2 separate regions of the Homo sapiens genome follow, and region 2 is linked to region 1. Evidence: fine-mapped expression QTL. A gene starts in region 1. The other region holds a variant in brackets. All regions are shown on one strand. Distances are between the middles of the regions.

Region 1 (5,362 bases):
AAACCAGGAAGAGAGGGAGGTCCTGGGTGTACGGAAGGGGATGCTCACTAAGTACTCTTTGGGCAGAGCCTTCCCGATGGCGAGGAGGCTGCAGACTTTGGCCAGCGTGACCACGTGGGGACTGAGCGAGCTTAGGATGTTGAGGTTCTCCCTGAAGACAGTGGCCAGCTTGGGGCAGGAGGTGAAGCAGTCACTCTCAGTTGAAAGTTGATCCGGCCGCTGTGCAGAGAATGGACTTTGGGGGCCCAGCTTCAAGGTCAGATCCAGGGGAGGACAAGATGAACATGAGGATGGGAAAACGCCACCTGGGGAGAGGCTGCAGGGCCAGATCGCCAGGCCTTGTAGACAGAGACAGGGAGGAGCCTGTGGGAACAGCCTGGCTCGCAGCCTGGACACAGCTGACCCTGGAATCCAGAGGGAGGTGCGGCCCCAGGAGGGAGCGGAGGTGGAAGAGGAGTTTGGTTTTGGTTCAGTCATGCCACCCTTCAGCCTATCCGTGGTCCCCAGAAGGCACCCACGTTGCTGGCCCATGGTCCACACCCTGCCCAAATCTAGGTCCTCCATTCAGGAGAGACCCCTACATTCCTTCTTTCTTTCTTTCATTCAGCAAATGTGCTTAGCTGTAGGGATACTGAAGTGAGCAAAGCAGCCATGGGACCTCACTTGGGCACACAGTCCAGGAAAGAATGTAGTCAGGTGGACACAGGAGCCAGACCAGGCAGCTGTCTGGGGATGGCCACACTGGGAGGCTAGGAAGTGGGAATGGATGAATATGACCATGAATTGTCAGATCCTTCTCCCAACACCCTTGGGAGGGGTAACAATATTCAGTCTGTTTTACTGGTGAGGATACAGACCCAGAGAAGTCATACACAGATGCCAAGCTGAAGCCCTGGGCTGGGCAATCACTTTCCACTATGCCACGCCCCCGGCTCAAGGGCCTTTTGATTAACAGTCTCTTCCCTCTGCACAAATATTCACTGAGCACCTACTGTGTGGCAGGCAGGCTCTGTTTGAGCCATTGACTACAGCCATGAGGAGCACAGACGTGGGGGTCCTTCCACCTGTCAGGGCCTGGGCTAGTCTTTCACCTTCCATGAGCCTCTGAAAATGGAGCCAACCAACCCTGTTCTGCTGCAGTTGCAGATGAGATGACATTGACCAGCCTGTTTGATCAATGGGAAGTACTTTCCTAAATCAGCACCGTGGACAGCGCCATGCTGGGGATAAGAGTGGAGCCCAGAGGCTGGAGAAGATCCGCTCACACAAGAGCCTGGACTGCTCTGCTTGTAGAGGGGTCGAGGCTGGAGATAGACACTGGGGAGATGATGTTTAAGCCACAAAACTAGATGAATCACTGAGGGAGTTGGGTTAGAAAGGGCAGAAGCGCAAGCAGAGAGCTTCGGGTCCTCCCTCCTGACCAGGTCAAGGAGATGAGGAGCCAGTGAGGGCACCAAGAGGGAGCGGGCAGTGATGGGAGCGTGGGAAGTGTGGCAGCAGGGACCTGAGCCGTGTGCTGCCGGCGCATCACATCAAATGAGTCCAAGTGACCTCGGACTTACCAGCGCAGAGGTCATTGATGACTTTTGCTAGAGCTGCTTTAGTGAAGCACTGGAAATTAAAACCCGGTGAGAGTGGGTTCAAGAGCAAAGGAGAGGGGAGAACGTGGAGGCAGCAAAGACAAATGACCTTCCTGAGGTTCGGCTCTGAATGTGGAGCAGAGAAGTAGGGCAGGAGACGGAAGGGAAGTGGGGTCAAGAGACAGGATAAATCGCAGCATGCTTTCATGCCAGTGGGAACGACCTGGGAAAGAGCGGTATCATGATGCAGGAGAAAGAGGGTGAAGAGTTGCTGGAGTGACAGCGTGAGTTGGGGGATGGAATGGGAGAAGCTGAATGCTGCCTTTGGCTGGGAGGAGGGATGGGGCATTCACAGGAGCAGGCCGGGGTGGACAGCGCCCAATGCCACAAGTACAGTGGGTGGGCACCAGCAAAGTCCTCTTCCAATGCCTTCAGCTTCTCAGGGAAGGAGGGTGCAAGGCCAGCAGCACAGTGTGAGGAGAGAGACGATGGGGGCTTAGAGGGAGAGAAGGTGCGAGGTGGTTGCTAGGTGAGGAGAGGCTGGGCAGACCAGGGAGGGCAGCGGAGCCGGCCTCCTTGCTGCTGAAGCCAAGTGCAGGCATTAGCAAGGTGGAGTTCACTCAGCTGCAGCCCACTGCAAGGGCACAGGCAAGGGTAGCAGGGAGTTGGAGCTGCCAGACTAGTACAAGAAAACAGGAGAGGGGCCAGCGAGGGGGCAGAGGCCATGGCAAAGATGTGAGGAGGGGTGGAGGAGGCCAGACAGGTGGAAGACACTGTGGGCTTCCACCTCACTAAAGGAGTGCTGGGGCTGGCCCTCGAGGGCAGGAGCTGGGGCAAGAATCCCCAGAGTGCGGTGGGGACAAGGGGACTGCAGTTTGGGTACAGTTTGTCGGGTGGGTGGCTGGGTGAGAGGACAAAATCCTTACAGGAGTCCGAGGGGCTGAGAGAAATCACCAATAGGATGACAGGAGAGCTAGGGAGAGGGCAGGGCAGGGGCCAGGGTCTTTAGGAGTGAAGGCATTGACCATGAGCAGGGTGCACGGATGGGTGGGCAGATGAGTGGGTGGAGGAGTGGGTGGATGGGTGGATGGATGGATGGATGGATGGATGGATGGATGGATGGATGGATGGATGGATGGATGGATGGATGGATGGATGGATGGATGGATGGATGCATGGATGGTTGGGTGGATGGATGGATGGGTGGGTGGGTGAATGGGTGGGTGGATGGGTGGATAGATGGGTGAGTGAATGGATGGCTGGCTGCCCCTCCCACTGCCTCTGAGATCCAGAGCTGAGTTTTAGAAGAGGCAAGGGCAGGAGAATGATCCGGAAGGGGCCCTAAAGAGTGAGAAGGACCCTGCACACCTCCAGGTCCATAGATCCAAAGGCTTCAGGAAGAGAGCCAACCCCTTCCCTGGGGACTTCAGAGCATCAGAGCATTGGGGAGCGTAGGGAGGAGAAGGACCTTTACAGGGAGGCTTTGATGCCCGCATGCCCCCATCCTGGCCCAGCCCCACTGCCACTCTCCTTCATGACCTTGGCAGAGCATCTTCTTCTGGAAGATGGGTCAGAGGGCCGCTTCCTGCTCCCACATTCTCAGAGCCCCAGGTGCCCCGTCCCCCTTCCCGTCCATTCCCCTCCCTCACCAAGTGTCTCGCCTGGAGTGGCTACAGAAGGAGGGGGCAGACCTGCTGGGCTGGGGGTCCCAGGACAAGAGGAGGCCATGCCAGCAGCCCGGGAGACAGGCTTCTGTTTACTAGGCTGCCCAGGAGACGGGGAGGGGCCTCCCAGGGGAGGACAGAACCTTGCGTTTAAAGGGCCTCCACTCAGGAGTGGGCTGGGGCTGTGGGGGAGGCTGAGTGGGGACCTGTGGGCTCAGTGGCCTCTTGCGCACTAAACTCTCTGTGGGCATCACTGCAGCCCCTCACCCAGCACCCTGCCCCTCGCCTGGACCCTGCAGGGCCACCCTCTGGGCCAGCCTCCCATCCTTAACCCTTCCCATTGCACCCAGCAACCCTCCGAGATCAATCCCCAGTCACATCTGCTCACCTGCCCTGCTCAGAGACCATGAGAACCTGGCACCCAGAGACCGCCAGCCTGTCCCCACCAGCACTCTTCCTCCTGACTCACCTCGGGTCAGCCTGGTGTCCACAGCCGCAGCCTGTGAGTGCTCTCAGGGCAGCCGAGGCCTTGATCCAGCCTCAGCTGGCCTGTCCCTCCAGACCACGGGGCTCCCACAGGCATTCCCGAAGTCTTCAGAGCCCAGGTCAGCAGTCCCCATCTTCAGCAACTCCAGTAGTCCCTATGAAGCAGGTCAGACCTTGCCTCAGCCACAAAGAGCTCATGGGGATATCAGTTCCCCCAAAGTGGGATCAAGTGCTGGTAGGGGTGGGGACATGAGACAGAGAAGGGAACAAAGCCTGGGAAGACGCATCCCAGCACAGTTTTACCGGAGATGGCCTCAGAGCTACCCCGCCTGCCCAAACAGCCGTGGGCTGCTGTATCCCCAGCAGGTGTGGCTTGTAAGGAGCCTGGCAGCCAGAGATGGCCTCAGGGAAAGAAAGGTAAGTGCTCCCAGGGGCCTGAGCTGGGGCCTGGCTCTTCACAAGGAGAACCCCAGCCACAGACTGGGATGTGATTGAGCAGTCAATGCCCCTGGTGTTTGAGTGTCACTCATGCCAGGCTCTCTGTTACCACAGCCTCTAATACAGCAGGGCTGTGACGCAGGACAGGACGGGGCTTGACTGGGGAGCAGGGGCCCCTCCCCTCTCCTGGTCTCTGTATTTTTGCACCTCCACATCTCTGTGCAGTTGCCTTGAGAGGGTGCCCTTCCCACTCTCCTCTGCAATGCAAACTCATGCTCCCCCTTCAGGTTCTGGCTCATATCACCTCCTTCAGGAAGCCCACCTGGCCTGCTCTGTACCTGAGAGCCTCCCAGGCCTGGCTGGCACCCCATCAGAAGTCATCTGTTTGGATATGGTCCCTCCATTGCCTTCCATGGGCTCCCATGTGTCCTGGTGATGACCTCAGGCTGCACATGGTCCCATGTCCAGGGCCCTGCCCCTCGGGGCCACACCCTCTGAGCAGCCCAGGCTCCAGCTCCCTCCGCTGAGATTCCTAGGTCAGTGCCAGCCTCAGACTTAGGAAGGTGGGCATGCGGGAGGCAGGGAAGGCCAGGGTTGTCATGGCAAAACCCTGTACCCATTCTGTCTTCCCACCCCCCTGAGAACCCCTCAGGACAGGCCTGGGCCATATCCTCTGGGCCAGACTTAAAGAAAGGCCTGCTCAGCCCCAGCAGGTGAGCTGGAACCCTTCTCCCCAGACAAGCCACACTCCATGCCCTCCCCCACCTCCAGCAAGGCTGGGGTGCAGCCCAGGAGACCCAGCAGAGGCTGAAGCCCAGCCCTCCAGGCACCTGTAGGCAGGAGCACACCCAGCTCTCGGACCTCAGAATCAGCCGTGGTGAGTGTGGTCCTGTATTCACATGGCCAGCATGTGTTTTCCACCTTCCTGTGCTCCGGCCAGGTGGCCCCCCGACACCAATTCTCAAGGCAGGCGCAGGTCAACTTCAGCTCAGCCTGGTGGGCTCCGGCCGAATGATGGTCCTGAATGGCAGCTCAGCTATCAATATCATTGTGTGACTACAAGAGGAAGAAACAGTTCATCCTGACATGCTCATTCTGCAGACCGCCACTGAGCACCTCCTGGGGACCAAGCCTCAGCTGGCTAGTGGCCTCTAAACCAAGCTGTATCAGTCAGGGAGACATCTAAGCTGTTGC
Region 2 (5,362 bases), 68 kb after region 1:
AGGGCCCAGCCTAAGTTTGCTGTTCCAGGCACCCAGGCCCTGGTGATGGTGGCCTGCTCATGTGGCTGAGCCCAGCCAGGCCTCGGTGGCAGCACTGCCCTCACATGCCCTCTCTGCCCACAGCCACACCTTCCAGCTGTGGAGGGCCCTGGGGGCTGGGCAGCCCACGAGCCACCTGGTGCTGACCACACTGCTGGCCTGTCTGCAGGAGCGACCCCTGCCCACCGGTGCCAGCGACAGCAGCCCCTGCCCCAAGGAGAAGACCTACCTGCGTTTGCTGGCTGTGAGTCTCTGCCACCGCCCCATCAAATACTGGCAGCACCTCGGGCACTCACTCTGTGCCGGGCTGTAGGGGGGCACCCCATATCCAGGCTGCAGACACCCAGTCCAGCCCCAGCCTGGAGGAAAGCCGCCCAGGGCTGACCACACAGGCCCAGCTCCCACCTCCTAGCCGAGGGCTGTGAGCTCCTGTCTGTGAATCAGGACAGTCGTGTCAGTCCCCTGGGCTGGCAAGGGAACTCACTCACTCACTGTGGGGCGGCCTCAGAGAGGGGCTTCAGGTATAGGGAAGGGTGTGGAGAGAGTTGAGAACCCTCCCCATGCTTGGGTTCTGGGGAGTCATAGATTCTAGAGGAATCTTAGAGGCTGCCCTCTGCAGCCGCCACCCCCCTGTAGGAAGCCCCTGGTTTTCCTCATAAGCCCAGCACTGCTTCCACACTCCCAGGAGCCAGGAGCTCCCCTCCTGGCATGGCCACACCTGTCCCCCTTACCTGGACCCTGATGAGGCCACAGCTGTGTTCCTGTTTAGAGCTTTCCAGGCTGAGTCCCTGCCCCAAAGGCACCCCAGCAGTGGCCCAGAGCTCACAGCAGCTCCCCTACCACCCAGAGCCCCCCAGACAAGCTGCTGCCTGCAGCAGGGGTGTGATGAGGGCTTAACAATGGCAGCCGGTGGGAGAGCACCCCCTCGGCCTGGGGATTTATCAGCTGGCCATCCCCAACAGCCCCGCCCCGGTCGGCCCTGGGCTGATGCTGCCCCCCTACCAGAGGACCACACAGCAGCATGGGTGAGACCCACCCAGGGGTAGCAGGGGAGCCTTCCCTGCACCCCACCACACCGCCAGTTCCTGCCCTCCCCCCAGTTGTCACTGCTCAGTGCTGGCCCCACCCTGAGAACATTCTGGACTGAAGGCTCCGGCAGGCACATTCGGCCTTTGGGGTTGGGGGCTGCTATCAGCTGACTCTGCCTTCCAGGGCCATGGGTTCCCCAACTCCCAGGCATCAGGCCCTGCTGTGTGCCAGCCACAGAGCTGAGGGTACCGTGAGACCACACAGCACAGGACCTTGCCTTCAAGGCAGTAGAGCAGAGGGCCCAGACGCCAGCAGCTCACCCCTTAGACAGGAGCAAAGTGCAGAGGGCAGATGGTGGCATCCAGTGTGCGGTCTGAGGGAGGCCCTGGGTCAAGGTGGAGGTCTGCAGGAGTGTAGAGCGGACAGCATCCAGGTGGACAGCTAGGGGAGGCTGGGGACCACTAGGCCATCCAGCAGCAGCGAGACCCAAGCGGTGGGTCCAGAGGGTGCAAGAGACGGCCAGGCTGAGTCTGCAGAGGCACGGGGTCAGGCCCCACAGGGAGGGACAGCATGTGGACACTTGGACTTGGTCCTGGAGAGCTTGCAGCAGGGAGGGACGAGCATGCTTGGACGTGGCTTTTGTGGGACAGTAGGTCAGAACCCCTGGTCCCGGGACCCAGGGCCTGGGAGCCTCACTCCACGCCTGCCCCCGACAGGCCATGAACATGCTGCACGAGCTGCAGTTTGCCCGGGAGTTCAAGCAGGCCGTGCAGGAGGGCTACCCCAAGCTCTTCCTGGCCCTCCTCACCCAGATGCACTATGTCTTGGAGCTGAACCTGCCCAGCGAGCCCTAGCCCAAGCAGCAGGCCCAGGAGGCGGCCGTGCCCAGCCCCCAAAGGTAAGACTAGAGCCTCCCAGGCCTCCTGGCCTGGCCAGACACACATAGGGTTCCGCAGGCATCCGAGGGCAAAGACTGTGTTAGCCTCATAGAGCACAGTAACAAAGACGCATACCCCACGGACTCAAAGCAACATCTCCCAGTGCTGGAGGCCAGAAGTCTAAAACCAAGGTGTCACCAGGGCGTGCTCCCCTGAAACCTGCGGGGGCCTTCCTCACTGCTTCCGGTTCCCAGTGTCTCATGGCCACGCTGGGTGTTCCTGGGCCTGAGGCTGCACCACGCTCATCTCTGCCCCTGTGGTCACCTGACATTCTCCCTTGTGTGCCAGTGTTTAAATTTCCTCCTTTTTTTTTCCAGCTCTGTCAGAATTAAGCTTTCGTTCATGTCTGTTGAGTGGTTCAGCAGTTGAACAGTTAAATTCAGCATCTGAATAAATTTCCCCTTCTTATAAGGATACCAATCACTGGGTTAGGGCCCCACCCTAACGACCTCAACTTGATAACATCTGCAAAGACCTTCTTTCCAAATAAGGTCACAGTCACAGGTACCGTTGGTTGACTTCAATATATCTCTTTTCGGGGGGACACAGTTCAACCCACAACAGTCATGAACCTGAGCCCCATCCATGGCCAGGGCCACAGGGGCTGTGGGCAGCACCTGCAGACAGGTGTTCGTCCCACTTACCCGTCACCTGACGGTGCTTGGCAGTAGAGATACTTAGTGTCACTGCCATACAGCGACCTCAAGGGGACAGCAGTTACCAAAAGCACCCATGCAGTGAGCCACATCTTACCCCAGTGGGTTTCCTGCGAGGACTCGAGATGAATGTCGTTGTCCCTGCTCTACAGATGAGGCAACTGAGGCTCAGAGAGGGTCAGAGGCTTCCCCTGGGCCACACAGCATGTCCATGCAGAGGCGAACTGGGCTCACCCATGGGGCAGATGCCTTTCCATGCCCTCTTGGGCATCTCATTGGTCCTCAGCACATGCTCAGGCTGACATCACGGCCAGTTGCCCGCTCCCC[C/G]GCCCACCGTATTCTGGCCTCAGTAGGGCTGCCTGCCTTCATCTTCCCTCTGCACCAGGTCATATTTCCAAAAATCCAATAAGCAAGTCTAAAAACCGCTGGGGCCAACTCTTTTCATTTGTTTGTATTATGATGTGCGTCACGCAATTTGTCAGTTTTAACAGCTCTCCCCAAGGCAAGTCACTTAAAAAAAATGCCACTTCTTCTCATCTTGCCTCCGAATTCAAATGTGCACGAAGTTCCTTTTTTATTCAGTTCAACCATGCAAAATGCATGAATCTTTCCTAATAAGCTAATAAAACCTTCTCCTCCCGGAACGTGGGAGGGTTGGGAGAAAGCCTCACCCCGTCTGCTCCTCCCCCTGCTGGAATGTTCTTCCCCCAGCCATCCTGTCTCTGCAGGCTCTGCTCACCCGCACCTCACTGAGGCCTCCCCCACCACCCTCCAAAATAGCAGCCCCTTCGGCGCCTCCCACCCTCTGCTGCTTTATTCTCGCCGCAGCCCCGCCATCAGCTACCATCTGTGATCTGCGCCTTTTACCTGCTTTACTGCCCTCACCCATAGACTGGAAGGTCCCGAAGAGCCAGAGACATCTGTCTGTCTCTCGCGGGCTCCCCATACAGCAAGGACGTCTGTCTGTCTCACTGGGGGCTCCCCATACAGCAAGGACGTCTGTCTGTCTCACTGGGGGCTCCCCATACAGCGGGAATGTCTGTCTGTCTCACTGGGGGCTCCCCATACAGCGGGAATGTCTGTCTGTCTCACTGGGGGCTCCCCATACAGCGGGAATGTCTGTCTGTCTCACTGGGACCTCCCCATGCGGCTGAGACATCTGTCTCTCGCGGGTTCCCCCACCAGCAAGGACGTCTGTCTCTCTCAGGCCCCTCATACAGCTGGGACATCTGTCTGTCTCGGGCTCCTCATACAGCTGGGACGTCTGTCTATCTCTCTTGGGCTCCCCATACAGCTGGGACGTCTGTCTATCTCTCTTGGGCTCCCCATACAGCTGGGACGTCTGTCTATCTCTCTCGGGCTCCCCATACAGCTGGGACGTCTGTCTCTCTCGGGCTCCTCATACAGCTGGGACGTCTGTCTGTCTCTTTCGGGCTCCTCATACAGCTGGGACGTCTGTCTGTCTCTCTCGGGCTCCTCATACAGCTGGGACGTCTGTCTCTCTCGGGCTCCTCATACAGCTGGGACGTCTGTCTCTCTCGGGCTCCTCATACAGCTGGGACGTCTGTCTCTCTCGGGCTCCTCATACAGCTGGGACGTCTGTCTGTCTCTTTCGGGCTCCTCATACAGCTGGGACGTCTGTCTGTCTCTCTCGGGCTCCTCATACAGCTGGGACGTCTGTCTCTCTCGGGCTCCTCATACAGCTGGGACGTCTGTCTCTCTCGGGCTCCTCATACAGCTGGGACGTCTGTCTGTCTCTCTCGGGCTCCCCATACAGCTGGGACGTCTGTCTGTCTCTCTCGGGCTCCTCATACAGCTGGGACGTCTGTCTCACTGGGGGCTCCTCATACAGCTGAGACATCTGTCTCTCGTGGGTTCCCCCACCGGCAAGGACGTGTCTCTCTCTCGGGCTCCCCATACAGCTGGGACGTCTGTCTGTCTCTCTCAGGCTCCCCATATAGCAGGGACTTCTGCCTCGCGCGGGGCCACGGGTGGTTTCTGCTCAGGCCGCTCCGGGCAGGTTCTCCTGGAGCCCTGGAGGTGGCCCCGGCAGCTCCCGCAGCCCCAAGAGAAAAAACTCTCACCACGGGCACAGTCCTGGGCTCTGATTGGCCTAGCTTTGCTCACATACCCAATCCTGAACCAATCACCTTGGCCACAGGGGCCTGTGCGGCTCTGACTGGCCAGGCCTGGCTCCCACGCCCTCCAGGGAGCGGCATGGGCCCAGGCCTCTTCGACCACCGCGAAGGGGCCCAGGCTCCGGTTGCCAAACCAGCAGCCATGCCACCCAGCACCACCACGGAGCCAGGGAGAAAGGGAGGCCTGAGAGCAGAGTGACACCCAGGTGTATCCCGGTGGCTCACGGTCTGAGGTCCCTGCCAGGCTGCTGTGGCACTGTCAAGGTGGGGACAGGGGCCCAGAAGGACAACTGGATGAGCAGTGCTGAGTAGCCACTCTCTCTGCATGCCCAAAACGGTGGGGGCGGCACAGGACACCATGGGGCAGCAGGGGAGTCTTGAGGCCTGATGGGGCCAGCCCTGGGCCTCTGAAGTTCTCATGTCCTGCTTAGATGGACAGGCCTCTGGGACCAGGAAGCAGCGAGTGGGGTTGAGCAGGGCACCCTTCCCTGGGCAGGACTGCAACAGGTGCTGCCAGGCCTGCCAGAGGGGCCTCCCTCTCCCCTGCTCCTCCACTAACAAA

What was found.
Region 2: its variant is fine-mapped to the expression of C8orf90 in caudate (GTEx, PIP above 0.99). The same link has a PIP of 0.9 or more in nucleus accumbens and putamen.

What each region holds. Positions count from the first base shown.
Region 1 is chr8:141,512,643-141,518,004 of GRCh38, reverse strand. C8orf90 (chromosome 8 open reading frame 90) reads right to left here and starts at 3,334. Exons shown (of 2, transcript NM_001395960.1): 1 at 3,230-3,334. The coding sequence starts at 3,308. LOC105375791 (a long non-coding RNA gene) reads left to right here and starts at 3,790. Exons shown (of 3, transcript XR_928727.1): 1 at 3,790-3,849; 2 at 4,097-4,147; 3 at 4,456-5,362. RefSeq lists silencers at 1,119-1,319, 1,062-1,356, 3,442-3,736.
Region 2 is chr8:141,444,511-141,449,872 of GRCh38, reverse strand. LOC105375789 (a long non-coding RNA gene) reads right to left here. Exons shown (of 3, transcript XR_928722.3): 1 at 2,760-5,362. It overlaps LOC124900270 (small nucleolar RNA SNORD5), which reads right to left and starts at 2,398; the gene lies at 2,324-2,398. It also overlaps MROH5. The variant C/G (reference allele first, on the strand shown) is at 2,990.